Linked DNA regions of Homo sapiens: region 1 is reported to be linked to region 2. Evidence: microRNA targets listed by miRTarBase, many of them from high-throughput screens and not tested one by one. Region 2 holds a microRNA gene; the other region holds the end of a gene's coding sequence.

Region 1 (7,966 bases), not on the chromosome of region 2:
CCTGGCTAGTTTTTTTGTATTTTTAGTAGAGACAGGGTTTCACCATGTTGGTCAAGCTGGTCTCGAACTCCTGACCTCATGATCTGACCACCTGTGCCTCTCAAAGTGCTGGGATTACAGGCGTGAGCCACCGGGCCAGCCACTCTCTTCCTTTCAGTTGCCTACTCATCTCTTATGCATTCCTGGACATCAGTTGTCCTTTTGAAGCTTTCCTCCACTATCCCAGCCCATGTGAATCCTCCTTCCAGTTATAGCCCTTAATTCTAGATGGCTGATATTTTTCAATAATTGTTTTAAGATGACCATTTTAGCCTATCAGCTAAACAATATCAAAGACAATAGCTATTTTTCAAGTACTTTAGTTTACCTTATTATAGAGTGCATAATAGATATTCAGTAAATAGTAAAGGAGAGGTGAAGGCTTGCATAGAATGGATTCTGGTGGTGTCTCTTGGTGAGCTTTTAGCATCAAGATTAATCAGCAGTTTCAGCAATGAGCTCAGACCTTCAGTTTTAGATCTTTACTCATATCAGATAAGAGAGTGAGAAGAGTGGTATGTATCAGTGCTTTATTTATATTTGCATCCAATTTGAACTATGAATATTACAAAGGTGCACACATAGGTTCAGACAGATTGATTTAAAATGACCAAAGATGACCTGTCGTAAGCAACCTGGGTATCTTAAGATGCACTCCTTGGAGAGGGAATGTTCCTAAAAACATTTTCAGAGGGACGAACTGTATGAAATTCAGTAAAACATAAATCATGAGGAAAACTGATTACTCTCTTTTTGACATGAAATGAGAGTTTTAATGCATGGTTACGATTATTAACGTACTCCGCTGCAAGACGTTAATAAAGTTACTGTTTTGCAGGCTAGAATGTCTTGATGCTGTAATCAGAACACACTTTTTCCCCTTTCTTCCAGCTTCAAATGCAGATTCATAATTGGGCTGACTTCTAATAACTGCAATGTTTTCTGCCTTGGGCTTGCAGCAGAAGCCTGACAAAATAGTGTTTGTTTAGGCAATAATTTATTTATTTATTTATTGAGATGGAGTTTCATTCTTGTCGCCCAGGCTGGAGTGCAATGGCGTGATCTCGGCTCACTGCAACCTCTGTGTTCAGGCAATAATTTAGACTTTACCTTACTTGTGATTACTATAGCAATTACTATAGCCACAAGGCATAATTTTACTGTCTCATTTCAATTTTATGAATTTGAATGTTTTTACACTTTTCCTAATGAAGTCCACTATGAAGTTATGTCAAAAAAAAAAAAGAAAAAGAAAGATGCACACGTAAAAGAGAGGTGGTTGCAAGAGAAGAAAAGAACGGAGGAAAGTTAAACGCAAACCAGATAACTCTCAGCGTATTCTAAATGACCAAAAACAGAACTCTGTTGTCAAAGATTTTAAATGGAAAATTTTTCAATTTTTTTTTCTTTTTTGTACAGGTTTCTTCCTGAACGCGCCTCAGCGATTTTAAATCGTATGCAGAATATTCAATTTGAAGCAGTGGTTGGCCACAAAATCAAAATGAAATGAATAAATAAGCTCCAGCCAGAGATGTATGCATGATAATGATATGAATAGTTTCGAATCAATGCTGCAAAGCTTTATTTCACATTTTTTCAGTCCTGATAATATTAAAAACATTGGTTTGGCACTAGCAGCAGTCAAACGAACAAGATTAATTACCTGTCTTCCTGTTTCTCAAGAATATTTACGTAGTTTTTCATAGGTCTGTTTTTCCTTTCATGCCTCTTAAAAACTTCTGTGCTTACATAAACATACTTAAAAGGTTTTCTTTAAGATATTTTATTTTTCCATTTAAAGGTGGACAAAAGCTACCTCCCTAAAAGTAAATACAAAGAGAACTTATTTACACAGGGAAGGTTTAAGACTGTTCAAGTAGCATTCCAATCTGTAGCCATGCCACAGAATATCAACAAGAACACAGAATGAGTGCACAGCTAAGAGATCAAGTTTCAGCAGGCAGCTTTATCTCAACCTGGACATATTTTAAGATTCAGCATTTGAAAGATTTCCCTAGCCTCTTCCTTTTTCATTAGCCCAAAACGGTGCAACTCTATTCTGGACTTTATTACTTGATTCTGTCTTCTGTATAACTCTGAAGTCCACCAAAAGTGGACCCTCTATATTTCCTCCCTTTTTATAGTCTTATAAGATACATTATGAAAGGTGACCGACTCTATTTTAAATCTCAGAATTTTAAGTTCTAGCCCCATGATAACCTTTTTCTTTGTAATTTATGCTTTCATATATCCTTGGTCCCAGAGATGTTTAGACAATTTTAGGCTCAAAAATTAAAGCTAACACAGGAAAAGGAACTGTACTGGCTATTACATAAGAAACAATGGACCCAAGAGAAGAAAAGGAAGAAAGAAAGGTTTTTTGGTTTTTGTTTTGTTTTGTTTTGTTTTTTGTTTTTTTGAGATGGAGTCTCACTCTTTCGCCCAGGCTGGAGTGCAGTGGTATGATCTCAGCTCACTGCAAGCTCCACCTCCCGGGTTCACGCCATTCTCCTGCCTCAGCCTCCTGAGTAGCTGGGACTACAGGCGCCCGCCACCACACCCGGCTAATTTTTTGTATTTTTTGTAGAGACGGGGTTTCACCATGTTAGCCAAGATGGTCTCGATCTCCTGACCTCGTGATCCACCTGCCTCGGCCTCCCAAAGTGCTGGGATTACGGGTGTGAGCCACCGTGCCCAGCCTTTTTTTTTTTAATAGAAAAAATAATCCGACTCCCACTACATCAAGACTAATCTTGTTTTGTGTGTTTTTCACATGTATTATAGAATGCTTTTGCATGGACTATCCTCTTGTTTTTATTAAAAACAAATGATTTTTTTAAAAGTCACAAAAACAATTCACTAAAAATAAATATGTCATTGTGCTTTAAAAAAATAACCTCTTGTAGTTATAAAATAAAACGTTTGACTTCTAAACTCTGTCTCTATGAGTGTCCTTCAAGAACCAAGGATGTGGATGGTAACAGCTACATCTGGCAGTTATTAAATGAATCCAGGGGTTTTCTCAACTCTGGTTTCTTTGACAGCAGGAGTGCTGGTTTATCAACTGGAACTTACTGACCCCTTTCTATGTGTGAGATTAAGCACAGTGCTATTGTTTCTAATTTTTTTTCTTAGTCACCGGCAATAATTTTTTTCATAACATTCTTTTAATTTCTTGCCTTATAATCAAGAAATTTATGAGTAAAATGTATTATTTTTAAAGTATGGTTACAAAAATTCAAAAGAGAAACATGGAAAGTAAAAAATAGAAGCTTACCCCCAGCAATCCCATTTCCCAGAGGTCACACTGTCAATGCACAATCTTCCAGTCTTTTACTGATGCATGTTCATGACAAATACATTATATTCTTATTGCATGGGTCGTATCAGTAGTTTCATACCATACATTATGTTCTGTAACTTGCTCTTTTAGCTTACCAACTTATCACAAACAGCTGTTTGTTTCAGTATAGAGAATTCAACTTTTTTTCATGAGTACACAGTACTAAAATGGTACTCTAACCATTCCCTTTTGATAGGCACTTAGGATGTTTCCAGTATTTCTTAGTTCATCTATTTAAATATTAATTTAACAAATACTGAGTGCCCTCAAAGTTCTAGGCCCAGGGAAACATATATGAATAAGGCAAACTCCTTGTCTTAACAGAGCTCACATTCTAGTAGGTGGGACAAACAATAAAGGGACTGCAAATATGAGAGAGAGCATTTAAAGTAGTAGAGTCAGGGAAGAGCACGCTGAGAAAGAACATTTTGCGGACGAACTATTACCATACACAGGCAACTAAAAAATATTTTATGATATACATATTGACAAAAATAGAAACCTCTTAAATTCCAGTGTTAAGTTCAGAGCAGAAAACTTCTTATTTTAATTCCATTTTGGTTTTAATCTTTTATGAATGAAGCTCAGAGAAATGTGCGAGCAAAATATTCATCTCTCTTTGTCCATTTTTCTTGCTTATTTTGAGTGTAGTCCTCCTCCTTAAAAGTTCCACCTGCAGCCAGGCGTGGTGACTCATGCTTGTAATCCTAGCACTTTGGGAGGCCAAGGGGGGCAGATCACCTGAGGTCAGGGGTTCGAGACCAGCCTGGCCAACAAGGCGAAACCCTGTCTCTACTAAATATACAAAATTTAGCTGGGCATGGTGGTACATGCCTGTAATCCCAGCTACTCAGGAGGCTGAGGCAGGAGAATCACTTGAACCTGGGAGGCGGAGGTTGCAGTGAGCTAAGATCACGCCACCGCACTCCAGCCTGGGCAACAGAGTGAGACTCCGTCTCAAAAAAATAAAAAGCTCCACCTGAGCTTCCAAATGTTTTCCTATGACAATCTTCATCTATAATTCTCTCTAAGAGCCCTCTCTTTCACCAAAATCCCAGTTCCAAGGGCTACTGCTAGGATGTGCAGATCACCAGACAAATATTTTTTTGCAGGGCTTCTATCTATATAAACACTTTTATTAAAAATGCTTTATAAAATTTATAGGTCCATGTGCATGCAGTATAGTGATTTTTTGATAAAGATTTAGAATAATAGGAAGATTTGTGTATTTATTGTCCGAGCAGTACATGTAAAGATTCTTCTCGGCATCCTGGTACTATCTCTTTGGTCCAGGAATCATTTCTTTTTTATCAAATGAGCCATTCCTAGCTAATTTCATATCTTTTACCACAAGAAAGGGTAGCAATGCTGTTATTATTCATAATGCCATGGCTCTTTGTAATATGTTTGTAATAAAATAATATGAATCTTCACCCCTTTCCAATACCCTGCTACCATTTATTTAATCTTAGCTACATTATGCCTTTTGACATTGCATCATCCATTGTGCTACCCATGAATACTGGGTATCACTCAGAGACAATCACTCAAAGATTGTTACTGGTACAACACAGTTCAATATAGTACAATTGTTACTGGTACAATGTTTGATGATAATCACAAATTCAAGTCTTACCCAGGGTATATATACGAGAAAACATGAATGATTCGTTGTTTATTGCTCATTTTAAATTTATCATTTAGAATGTTATAGCATCACATAGAACAACACATCTTTCAACTGTGTCTTGTCTTGAACTTTTTAGGCCATCATCATTACATTTCTAGAATTGATCTCTGCCACTCCTGACCGTACCCTACCTCCCACACACCACCAGCAGCAGAGAGGGGATTGTGGACAGAACAAAATGAACAGCCCCATTTGCACAAGGAATGTCTGTCCCTCCTCTAGGAGAGCTTAACATTGACCAGGGAGAAGAGAACACAGCATCATCACATCAGTCAGAAAGGCCCACTGTTGTGAAGAAGCAATAGTCTTAAAAGCCCTCAGAAGAGATAAGTGCAGCCACCCCCCAACCCCCAGCCAAAAGGACTGCCTGACCCATGGCATAGAACCTGCAGAGGGGATAGGATGATTTTCCTGAATGCCATTGGCAAGCGGGGTAAGGACATCTGATGTCACCCTGCAGCCCTTGGATGTTATATAGCAGAAGTGGCATCATACTCAGAACAAACTGCGAGTGGATGCATGGGTCAACACATGCGGCTTGGGCAGTGGACCTTAGATAGCTTACAACCCTAAATTAGATCTATGCCCAATGTGAGTGAGAATTATCCAAAATCAGCATGTCAGCATCATTCTGGCAGCCAAATTTCATGTAATCCTGCAAAAGAAATTCTTTGCCAACCAGAAGTAGCAGTCTGCTCTCCAGGCCACCCTCCTGAAACGAAAGCCTGGAAACAAGACCCCAGGATGATCCTATAGTTACAAGTTGCAGAGCTCCCCAGGATATCTGGTCAACCTTATACACAGGGAGAGAAAGGGAGAGTACCCCAGAGAGAAAAAACAGAGCAGGCATCCGAAGAGGACTTGGAAAATTTCATAGAGGGCACTCCAAAGAATAAGGCTCTATGAGGCACAGGACTGGGGTAAGGCCCTCACTTGCTCAGATCTGAGGGTGGTATAGGTACAGCCAATCTTCAACTGTATGCAAAGCTTAAAGGAGTAGCAGAGTAAATGTATGGTTGAAGAGAAAATGCTTGGTTAGTTTCTAATCTAAATCTTATATGATCTATATAATAATGTTTCCAAAGATGGAATGAACATCTAACATTAAAGTTCCCCATTTACACAGGCCATGAGCCCCGAAACACCCATCCCAGGATTGCTGATGGGTGTTTCGGGGCTCATGGCCTGTGTAAATGGGGAAGTTTAAACATGCCCTTGCAGCATGGCTGCCGCATGAGAGGCATGTTGGAAATACAAACTGTTGCAACCCATCTCAAACTTACAAAATCAGAATCTGCATTTTTTAAAAACTCCTAGGTAATTCATATGTTTTAGAGGCATCTTTTTTTATAACACTAACTTTGAATTTAGTGCAGCATTATGTGAACTGGGCTGTTCTGTACATGTGATAATTACAACGAATTTAACAGTTACCCTTGTGTTTATGTCTTCACAAATTACGTGAGAAACCGTAAGGGGGAAATGCCAATCCCTGTCCTAAGAGTGCTCTCACGCTTTCTACTATTTGCTTCCTCTTGTGTCTAAAAGTTTTCAGACAGCTCATGACCTTTTCTATTCAGCTCTTCAAATCTGCCAAGTGTTTTGCTGAAACCCCTTCTTTATCTGATTGGATGTATTACATCTGATCAAATTTGCCTGTCAGCTGCTTGCAGCAAGGGTGGAATTACAGGAAAGTTAAGTGGGAACTTACTTGTATTTAATGGGAATCTTTTATAGTAAAAGTAATCACAGTGAAATCAAAGCAAGTACATTCTGACTTGCCTAGGGTGCAATCATGTCTCATTCAAACTAACTTCACAAACCCAGTGAGCAGCTAGAGAATATTCATAAATTCACATCAAAACACTTATGAAAAGTGAAGTCATTTACCAATTGCACTCCAGTAATGATCCATTATCTCAATAGAGATCTTCTTACTTTTAAATGTGAGGCTAACTTGTATAAATTAAGACTTAAATATTCCCAAACAACACTGAAAACCAAATTGCCTGTTCCCATACCTAATTCCAATAACTAGGATTTTTCACTTTTTTTTTTTTCTTTTTGAGACAGAGTCTCACTTTGTCACCCAGGCTGGAGTGCAGTGGTGTGATCTTGGCTCACTGCAGCCTCCATTTCCCGGGTTCAAGGGATTCTCCAGCCTCAGCCTCCTGAGTACCTGGGTTTATAGGCATGCACCACTACATCCAGCTAATTTTTGTACTTTTAGTAGAGACAGGGTTTCACTATGTTGGCCAGACTGGTCTCGAACTCCTGGCCTCCAGTGATCAGCCCGCCTCGGCCTCCCAAAGTGCTGAGATTATGGGCGTGAGTCACTGCACCCAGCCCTGGATTTTTTGACTTTCTGTTTCTCAACACCTCTTTCCTTCTGATGGCTCTTTACTAATTAGTTCAGACTTCGTTCAATTAATTTGATGCATTTAGTTCTCTACTTCTCTTCCATTGTTCTCTTTCTCTTTTCAGCCTTCTCTTTCTAAGCTTCTCCCCACATTCTAATCTAGTCTGGAAACATAGCCTATTTTTCAGTCATCAAAACTATCCTGTATTACCTATGTAGCAGGAAAAAAAAAAAGACCACTTGATGTTGAATTCAATTTGGAATGATGTGATTTAAATATTTCAAACAATATTGCAGTTCCAGTGTACCTTGTTATCTAACAATATTGCACATTTGAGAGTATTATTTTCTATGCTGGTGAATTTAATGTAGAAATATTCAAGATAAACTACAACAACTCATAGACTTTTTCAAGCCAAAACAAGGCTTTTTCTACAATTCATTCAAGAAAAGATATTCACTCGGCAACTTTGATAGGAAATACATGATGCTAGAATGTAGAAAAATCAGAGAGGAAGATGTGATCCTTGCTTTA
Region 2 (7,966 bases):
TATGTATAAAGAACCAAAGGAAAGTATGAAAATGATATAAAACTTAAGAGAGAATATCAATAAAGAGATAGACATTTAAATAATTTCTTTTTAAATAAAACAACCAAATAGAAATTCTAGAGTCAAAAAGTACTGAAACAAAAAAATTCACTAGAGGGTTTCAAGAGCATATTTGAAAAAGAATCAGTGAACCTGAAGATAAACCAATTGAGAAAATCTGGTCTGAGAAAGAGAAAGAAAAAAAGATTAACAAAGATGAAGAGAACCTTGCAGATCTATAGGATACCATCAAGCATGCCAATCTATGCATAATGGTAGTCTCGGAAGAGAGAAAAAGGAGCAAAAAATATGCTTGACAAAATAATGGCCAAAAACTGCCAGCGTTTGATGAAAAACATTAATCTATACATCAAAGAAACTCAACAGACTCCAAGTATAGTTGACCCTTGAACAACATGGGTTTGAGCTGTTCAGGTCCACTTATATGGAACTTTTACTCACCTCTGCCATCCCTGAGATGGCAAGACCAACCCCTCTTTTTCCTTCTCCTCTTTAGCCTACTCAATGTGAAAACAGAGGGGATGAATTCCTTTCTGATTACCCACTTAATGAATAGTAAATATATTTTCCTTATTATTTTCTTTTCTCTGGCTGGCTTAATGGTAAAAATACAGTATATGATACTTATAACATTAAAAAAAGTGTTAATCAGCTGTTTATGTTGTCAGTAACATTCTGGCCAATAGTAGACTATTGGTAGTTAAGTTTTTGGGAAGTCAAAAGTTGTATGTGGATTTTTTTTCTACCCTCTTCTCACAGGTATGTATATGTGGATGTTTGACTAGTGGGGTCGGCACCCCAACCCCTCATGTTGTTCAAGGTTATACTGTAGTATAAATGCAAAGAGATGCACACCTATACACAACATAACCAACTGGAAAACCAAGGGCACAGAGAGTATATTGAAAGCAGAAAGACAGAAGCAGCTCATCATCTCTGAGGTATTCTTGATAAGATTAACAGCCAAATTCTTTCCAGTAACTTTATGAATATAAACTATTGTTATGAATATAGACTATCAGAATGATTCCAGCTCCATATAAAAATATTTATGGACCATGACAAAGTGGAATTTATTCCATGAATACAGGCTCAGCATACATTATCATATATCATATTAATAGAATAATGGACAAAAGCCAAACAGTCATGTCATAGATATGAAAAAGCACTTGAGAAAATTCAACACACTTTAATGATTAAAAAAACAAACAAGAAACCTGGAATAGAAGGAAACTTCCTCAGCCTGATAAAGGGCATCTATGAAAACACACTGCTAATGTCACTTTGTGGTGAAAGGCTTGAAAAAATTATCCCATCTTAGTCTGTGTTACTATTAATATAAAGGCATACCTGAGGCTGGGTAATTCATGAAGAAAAGAGGTTCATTTGTCTCACGGTTCTGCAGGCTGCACAAGAATCATGGCATTGGCATCTGCTTCTAGTGAAGGCTCCAGGCTGATTCCACTTATGGCAGAAAGTGAAGAGGAGCTGGTATATGCATATCATATGGTGAGAGAGGAAGCAAGAGAGAGACTAGAGGAGGTACCAGGCTTTTTTCAACAACCAGTTCTTGTGGGAACTAAAAGTAAGAACTCACTCTCGTGAGAATGGTACAGAGCTATTCATGAAGGATCCACCCCCACAACCCAAACACTCCTACCAGGCCCCATCTTTAACACTGGGGATCAGATTTCAACATGAGACTTGGCAGGGCCAAACAAATCATATTCAAACCATAGTACCACCTAAGATCAGGAATAAGACAAGGACGTTCACTCTTACCATTTATATTCAGTGTTGTACCAAGGGCTGCATACCCATCAGTCAGAATCCTTGTGTCATGGCATCCTCCAGGTGTCACTTTTCCAGTTGGAAACCTCTGTGGCCAGTGGTGCCTTTGCCAGAGTTTTGCTCAAGCCTGCTGGGCTTGTTCCACCCACTCGGCCTGGCAGGCTGCACTCAGCTCATGCTACTGGCCTGGCTCCCACACCTTCAAAGAATGATCCAGGCATGGAGAGGAGAGGGGTGCACAAGTAAGCAAGCATGGGGTCTGGCTGCTGCACACAGCCAAGCATTGGCTGCTGTGGTGGGGTGGGCAGTTCCAGGTGCCACCACAGGTGCTGGCTCTGTTCAAGCCTGTGGCTGGATCAGATGCACTATAAGTGGCTTCTGCTCTGGGCACTCACATCTGGACAAGGGGAACATGGTGGCACTTGGAAGCTCCAAGACACTAGAAACCACAGAGCCCCAAAGAGGGTGTCACAGCCCTGGCTGGGGGAGCCTGTGCATCTGAGCTCCCTGAAGGGCTGCAGCTCTTCTCTCCTTCTCATTGCCTGCAGTGTGACGAGTGGGGTGGAGGCAGGTGTTTTAGCTCTGTTTGTGTTATAGCACTTTCAGTCCCACCATTCAACAGGTCCTGAATTTTTGTCCTGTGTCCAGGAAGAATGAGGTATGCAGAAAACTGGAGGGTGAGCAAGGCAGAAAGGAACTTTCTTGAGCAAAAGAGTGACAGAACAGCTCTTGGGAGACCTGGAGTTGGTAGCTCCTTTCCACAGGCAGGTCATCCCAACTAGTTCAGCCCTCAGTAGAGAGGAGCCCCAGATTGGGTAGCTCCATTTCACAGGCAGGTCATCCTGACAAGTGTCCAGCTCTCTGGGGAGAGGAGACCTGGAGTGGGTAGCTCCTTTCCATAGGCAGTTAGTCCTGACGAGTGCATCCCTCAGCAGAGAGGAGACCAGAGTGGGCAGCTCCTACCTGCAGGCAGGTCATCCCAACAAGTGTCCAGCTCTCAGAAGAAAGGACACCTGGAGTGGATAGCTCCTTTCTGCAGGCAGGTAGTCCTGACGAGTGCAGCCCTCAGCAGAGAAGAGACCCAGAGAAGGTAGCTCCTAGCTGCAGGCAGGTTGTCCAGATGAGTGTCCAGCTCTCAGGGGAGAGGAAACCCAGAGTAGGTAGCTCCTTTCCACAGACAGGTTGTCCCAACAAGTGTTCAACTCTCAGCAGAAAGGAGACCCAGAGTGAGTAGCTCTTTTCCACAGGCAGGTCATACTGACAAGTAGAGGAGACCTGAAGTGGGTAGCTCCTTCCTGCAGCTGGTAGTCCTGACATCTGTATGAGTCTAGCTAGGTAACATAGTTTTTATGGGCTCAGAAAGGAAGAAGTGTGTTCTGATTGGCCCATGGGTGGCCATGGGCGGGCCTGGAAAAAGCACCATAAGTTCTCACTCCAGGCCGCAGACTCCACCTGGAGCTGACAGCCCAGCCCCCAGGCTTCATGCCATCCATGGCTTGAAGGTTGCGTTTCACTGGGAACCTGCCCCTTTCTGCCCAGGAGCCTGTCTGCCTCCTGTCACCATCAACATGTTGTCCATGCCGCCCAGGCTGTTCATGCTGAGGTTTGCCTACAGGCCCACACTGAGCCACCCTGAGCAACCCCTTGGTCTCCCTCTTGTGCTCTTCAGTTCCCAAAGTCTGGATGGCCTGAGACAGCAGGGGGCTGGCATGTCAGCACTGCCCTGAGTGCTTGGGTACCCAGCTGGGTCACAACAGTGCCTGGGCTCTGCCACAACTTTGCTCTGCCCCAGAGTGGGGGCCAGGAGCAGGGAGAGGCCAGGCAGTGGGAGCAGGCACTTTCAAGCCTACGGGAACAAAGGGCTTCCGGGGCCCCTGAGACCTCAGGGATGCCTGGGTCTGTGGCTACAGCTGAGAAGCTGCAGCTGTGCCTGGGAGCATGTGGCTCCTGCTCCACTGACTTGTTAGGGGGTGGGGCTCCCACCTGTTCCCGGCACCCGTGGGCTCAGCAGAGTGTGCAGCCCCAGTTGTGCTTCCCCTGCTGAAGCCGGCATCTTCACAGTGGCTACTCCAGACAGGCCACTGCTGCCATCACTTGCACCAACCTGTAGGTGACAGTCTTCCTCCATGAAGCCAGTTCATATGCTCTAGAAGTTACTCCTCCATGAAATATGCAAAGAAACAGCCCAAGGCTACAAGAAATACGCACACACGAAATCAAAGAAACAGGACACCACCAAAGGAACACAATAATTTTCCAATAACCAACCCCAAAGAAATGGATATCTATAAATTGCCTTCCAAACAATTAGAAATAATTGTTTTTAAAGAAGTTCAGCATGCAATAGGAGAACACAGTTGGACAACTCAGTGAAAACAGAAAAAGAGTCTACGGCCATACCACCTCGAACATGTCTGATTTCATCTGAAAACAGAGAAAGAATACATGAACAATACAAGAAGTTCAACAGGAAGGTAGAACTTATAAAAAAGAACCAGGCTGGGAGTGGTGGCTCACACCTGTAATCCTAGCACTTTGGGAGGCCAAGGTAGGCGGATTGCCTGAGCTCAGGAGTTTGAGACCAGCCTGGGCAACACAGTGAAACCCCATATCTACTAAAATACAAAAAATTAGCTGGGCATGGTGGTGTGCACCTGTAATCCCAGCTACTCAGGAGACTGAGACAGGAGAATCACTTGAACCTGGGAGGCAGAGGTTGCAGTGAGCTGAGGTCATGCCACTGCACTCCAGCCTGGGTGACAGAATGAGACTCCAACTCAAAAAAAGAAAAAAAAAAAAAAAAGAAAAAGAAAGAAATTCTGGAACCAAAAAACCTAATGACTGATATTAAAAACACAATAGAGAACTTCAAAAATAGACTTTATTGAGCAGAAGAAAGAATTTGTGCCCTTGAAGACAGGTTATTTGAAATTATCCAGTCAGAGGAGAAAAAAGAATGAAAAAGAGTGAAGAAAATTTATAGGACTTATGGGACACCATCAAGCAAACCAATATGTGCATAATGAGAGTACTAGAAGAAGAAAAGCAAGAGAAAGAGGTAAAAAGCTTTTTTAAAGAAATAATGGGTTAGGTGCAGTGGCTCATGCCTGTAATCCCAGCACTTTGGGAGGTCGAGGCAGGTGGATCACCTGAGGTCAGGAGTTAAAGACCAGCTTGGCCAACATGGTGAAACCTTGTCTCTACTTAAACTACAAAAATTAGCCAGGTGTGGTGGCAGGTGCCTGTAATTCCAGCTACTCGGGAGGCTGAGGCAGGAGAATGACTTGAACTTGGGAGGCAGACGTTGCAATGAACTGAGATTGTGCCACTGTACTCCAGCCTGGGTGACAGAGCAAGACTACTTCTCAAAAAATTATAATAATAATAATGATAATAAAATAAAATAAAGAAGTAATGGCTGAAAACTTCTCAAATTTTGAGAGGGAAATGGATATCCAGATTCATGAAGCTTACAGGTTTTCAAAGAGGATCAATTCAAGACTATACCAAGGTACATTTTAATCAAATTGTCTAAAATAAAGGACACTGAAAGAATTTTAAAGCTGCAAGAGAAAAGTAATGCATCACATATAGGGAATCACCATAAGACTATCAGTGGCTTTCTCATCAGAAACCTTGCATGCCGAAGAGAATGGGATGATATATTGAAAGAACTGGAAAAAAAAAACTACTTACCGTGAATCTACATCTGGCAAGATTATCCTTTAAAAATGAAGGGGAGATGAATTCTTCCTTAGACAAACAAAAACAAAGGGAGTCTGTCACTACTAGCCCAGCCGTAAAAGAAATGTTTAAAAGAGTTATTTCTTCAAATTGAAATGAAAACACACTAAATAGTATAATGAAAACATATAAAAGCATAAATATTATGAGTAAAGGAAAATATATGGACAAATATAGTTAATATAAAACTATAATGGTGGGGCCTAACTTACTTTTAACCCTAATATAAAAATTAAAAGATAAAAATTTGTCAAAGGATACACAATATAAAAGGCAACAAACTGACTACAAGAACACAAAGTGTAGGGGTGGGGAGTAAAAATGTAAAACGGTTTTTGGTTTTGGTTTTTTTTAGAGACAAGGTCTTACTACATTGCACAGGCTGGTCTCAAACACCTCACTTCAAGCAATCCTCCTGTCTCAGCCTCCCAAAGCACTGGGATTACAGGTGTGAGCCACCATGCCTGGCCAAAAGTATAAAGGTTTTGGATGTGATTGAAATAGTTATAAACTTAAAAATAGATGGTTAGAAATACAAGATATTTTTCATAAGCCTCAAGTTAACCACAAAGAATAAAATCTGTAACAGATACAGAAAACATAAAGAGATGAGAATCAAAGCAATCACTATAAAACATCAAATAACAAACGAATATAATAAGAGAGGAAGAGAGGGGCAATATAACTGCAAAAGACACAAACCAGTTAACAGAATGGCAATAGTAGTCCTCAGCTATCACTAATTACTTTAAATGTAAATGGATTAAACTCACCAATTAAAAGGCATAGAGTGGCTGTGTAATTTGAAAGAACAGGATCCAATGGTATGTTGTTTATAAGAGACTGATTTTAGAGTTAAAGACACATATAGACTAAAAGTGAAGAGATGAGAAAAGATTTCTCACGCAAATGGTAACCAAGGATACGCAGGGTAACTATACTTATGTTAGACAAAACAGATTTTAGTTTAAAGCTGCCTGCAGAGACAAAGTCTTGATATAATTATAAAAAGATCATTTCAACATGATTATGTAACAATTATAAATATGTATATACTGAACAAAGAGCATCTAAATATATAAAGCAAATGTTGACAGATCTGAAGGCAGAATTTGACAGTAACATGATAATAGTAGAGGATTTCAATACTCCACTTATAATAATGTACAGAATATCAAAAAAGAAACAGAAAACACTATAAAACAAATGATCCTAACAGATATATAAAGAAATTTGCACCCAACAACAGAAGATTATCCACTTTTCTCAAGCATACATGGAACATTCTCCAGGATAGATCATATGTTAGATTACAAAACAAGTGACCTAATTTAAGAAGATTGGAATTATTCCAAGTATCTTTCTGGACCACAAGGGATGAAAGTAGAAATCAATAATCTTAAGAAAATAGGAAAAATCACAAACACATAGAAACTCAACAACAAACTCTTGAACAACTCTTGGGTCAAAGAGGAAATCAACGGGTAATTTTAAGAGTATCTTGAGGCTAGAAATGATGGCTCACATCTATAATCCCACTGCTTTGGGAGGCCAAGATGGGAAAATTGCTTGAGACCAAGAGTTTGAGGCTAGCCTGGGCAAAGAAAAAAAAAAAAAAAAAAAAAAAGAAAGAAAGAAAAGAAAGAGAGAAAGAAAGGGAAAAAAAAGAGAAAAACAGTAGAACATACCAAAATTTATAGGGTGCAGCAAAAGCAGTACTAAAAGGGAAGTATATAGTGATAAATGCCTACATTAAAAGAAGAAAGAAGGCCGGGCACAGTGGCTCATGCCTGTAATCCCAGCACTTTGGGAGGCCGAGGTGGGAGGATCACTTGAGGTCAGGAGTTTGAGACCAGCCTGGCCAACATGGCAAAATCTCATCTCTACTAAAAATACAAAAAATTAGCCAAGCATGGTGGTGCGTGCCTGTAATCCCAGCTACGTGGGAGGCTGAGGCAGGAGATCACTTGAACCTGGGAGGTAGAGGTTGCAGTGAGCCAAGATCATGCCACTGCACTCCAGCCTGGGTGACAGAGCATGACTCAGTCTCAAAAAGAAAGAAATAGAAAGAAAAAGAAAGAAAGAAAGAAAAGAAAGAAAGAAAGAAAGGAAGGAAGGAAGGAAGAGAAAGAAAGAAGGGAGGGAGGGAGGGAGGGGAGAGAGGGAGGGAGGAAGGGAGGAAGGAGAAAGATCTCAAATAAGATATTACACCTCAAAGAACTAGAAAAAGAGCAAACTAAGCCCCAAATTAGTGGAATAAAGGAATTAATAAAGATCAAAGAAGAAATAGAGAATATATTTATTTATTTGTTTATTTTTTTGAGACAGAGTCTCACTGTGTCACACAGGCTGGAGTGCAGTGGCATGA

The links. Region 2 holds the annotated microRNA hsa-miR-6500-5p (AGGAGCUAUCCACUCCAGGUGUCC, at 2,862-2,885, opposite strand). A microRNA usually pairs through its seed, bases 2 to 8, with sites in the 3' UTR of a target mRNA and lowers its output. Matches are read on the target gene's strand: a 7mer-m8 pairs with bases 2 to 8, a 7mer-A1 pairs with bases 2 to 7 and ends in A, and an 8mer does both.
Region 1: the mRNA of HSD17B13 is a reported target of hsa-miR-6500-5p. Seed matches in the 3' UTR shown: 7mer-A1 at 1,557-1,563 and 7mer-A1 at 2,521-2,527.

Annotation. Positions count from the first base shown.
Region 1 is chr4:87,298,801-87,306,766 of GRCh38, reverse strand. HSD17B13 (hydroxysteroid 17-beta dehydrogenase 13) reads left to right here. Exons shown (of 7, transcript NM_178135.5): 7 at 1,459-2,973. The coding sequence ends at 1,549. MIR5705 (microRNA 5705) reads left to right here and starts at 6,184; the gene lies at 6,184-6,272.
Region 2 is chr1:51,054,950-51,062,915 of GRCh38, reverse strand. MIR6500 (microRNA 6500) reads right to left here and starts at 2,898; the gene lies at 2,813-2,898. It overlaps MIR4421 (microRNA 4421), which reads right to left and starts at 3,079; the gene lies at 3,011-3,079.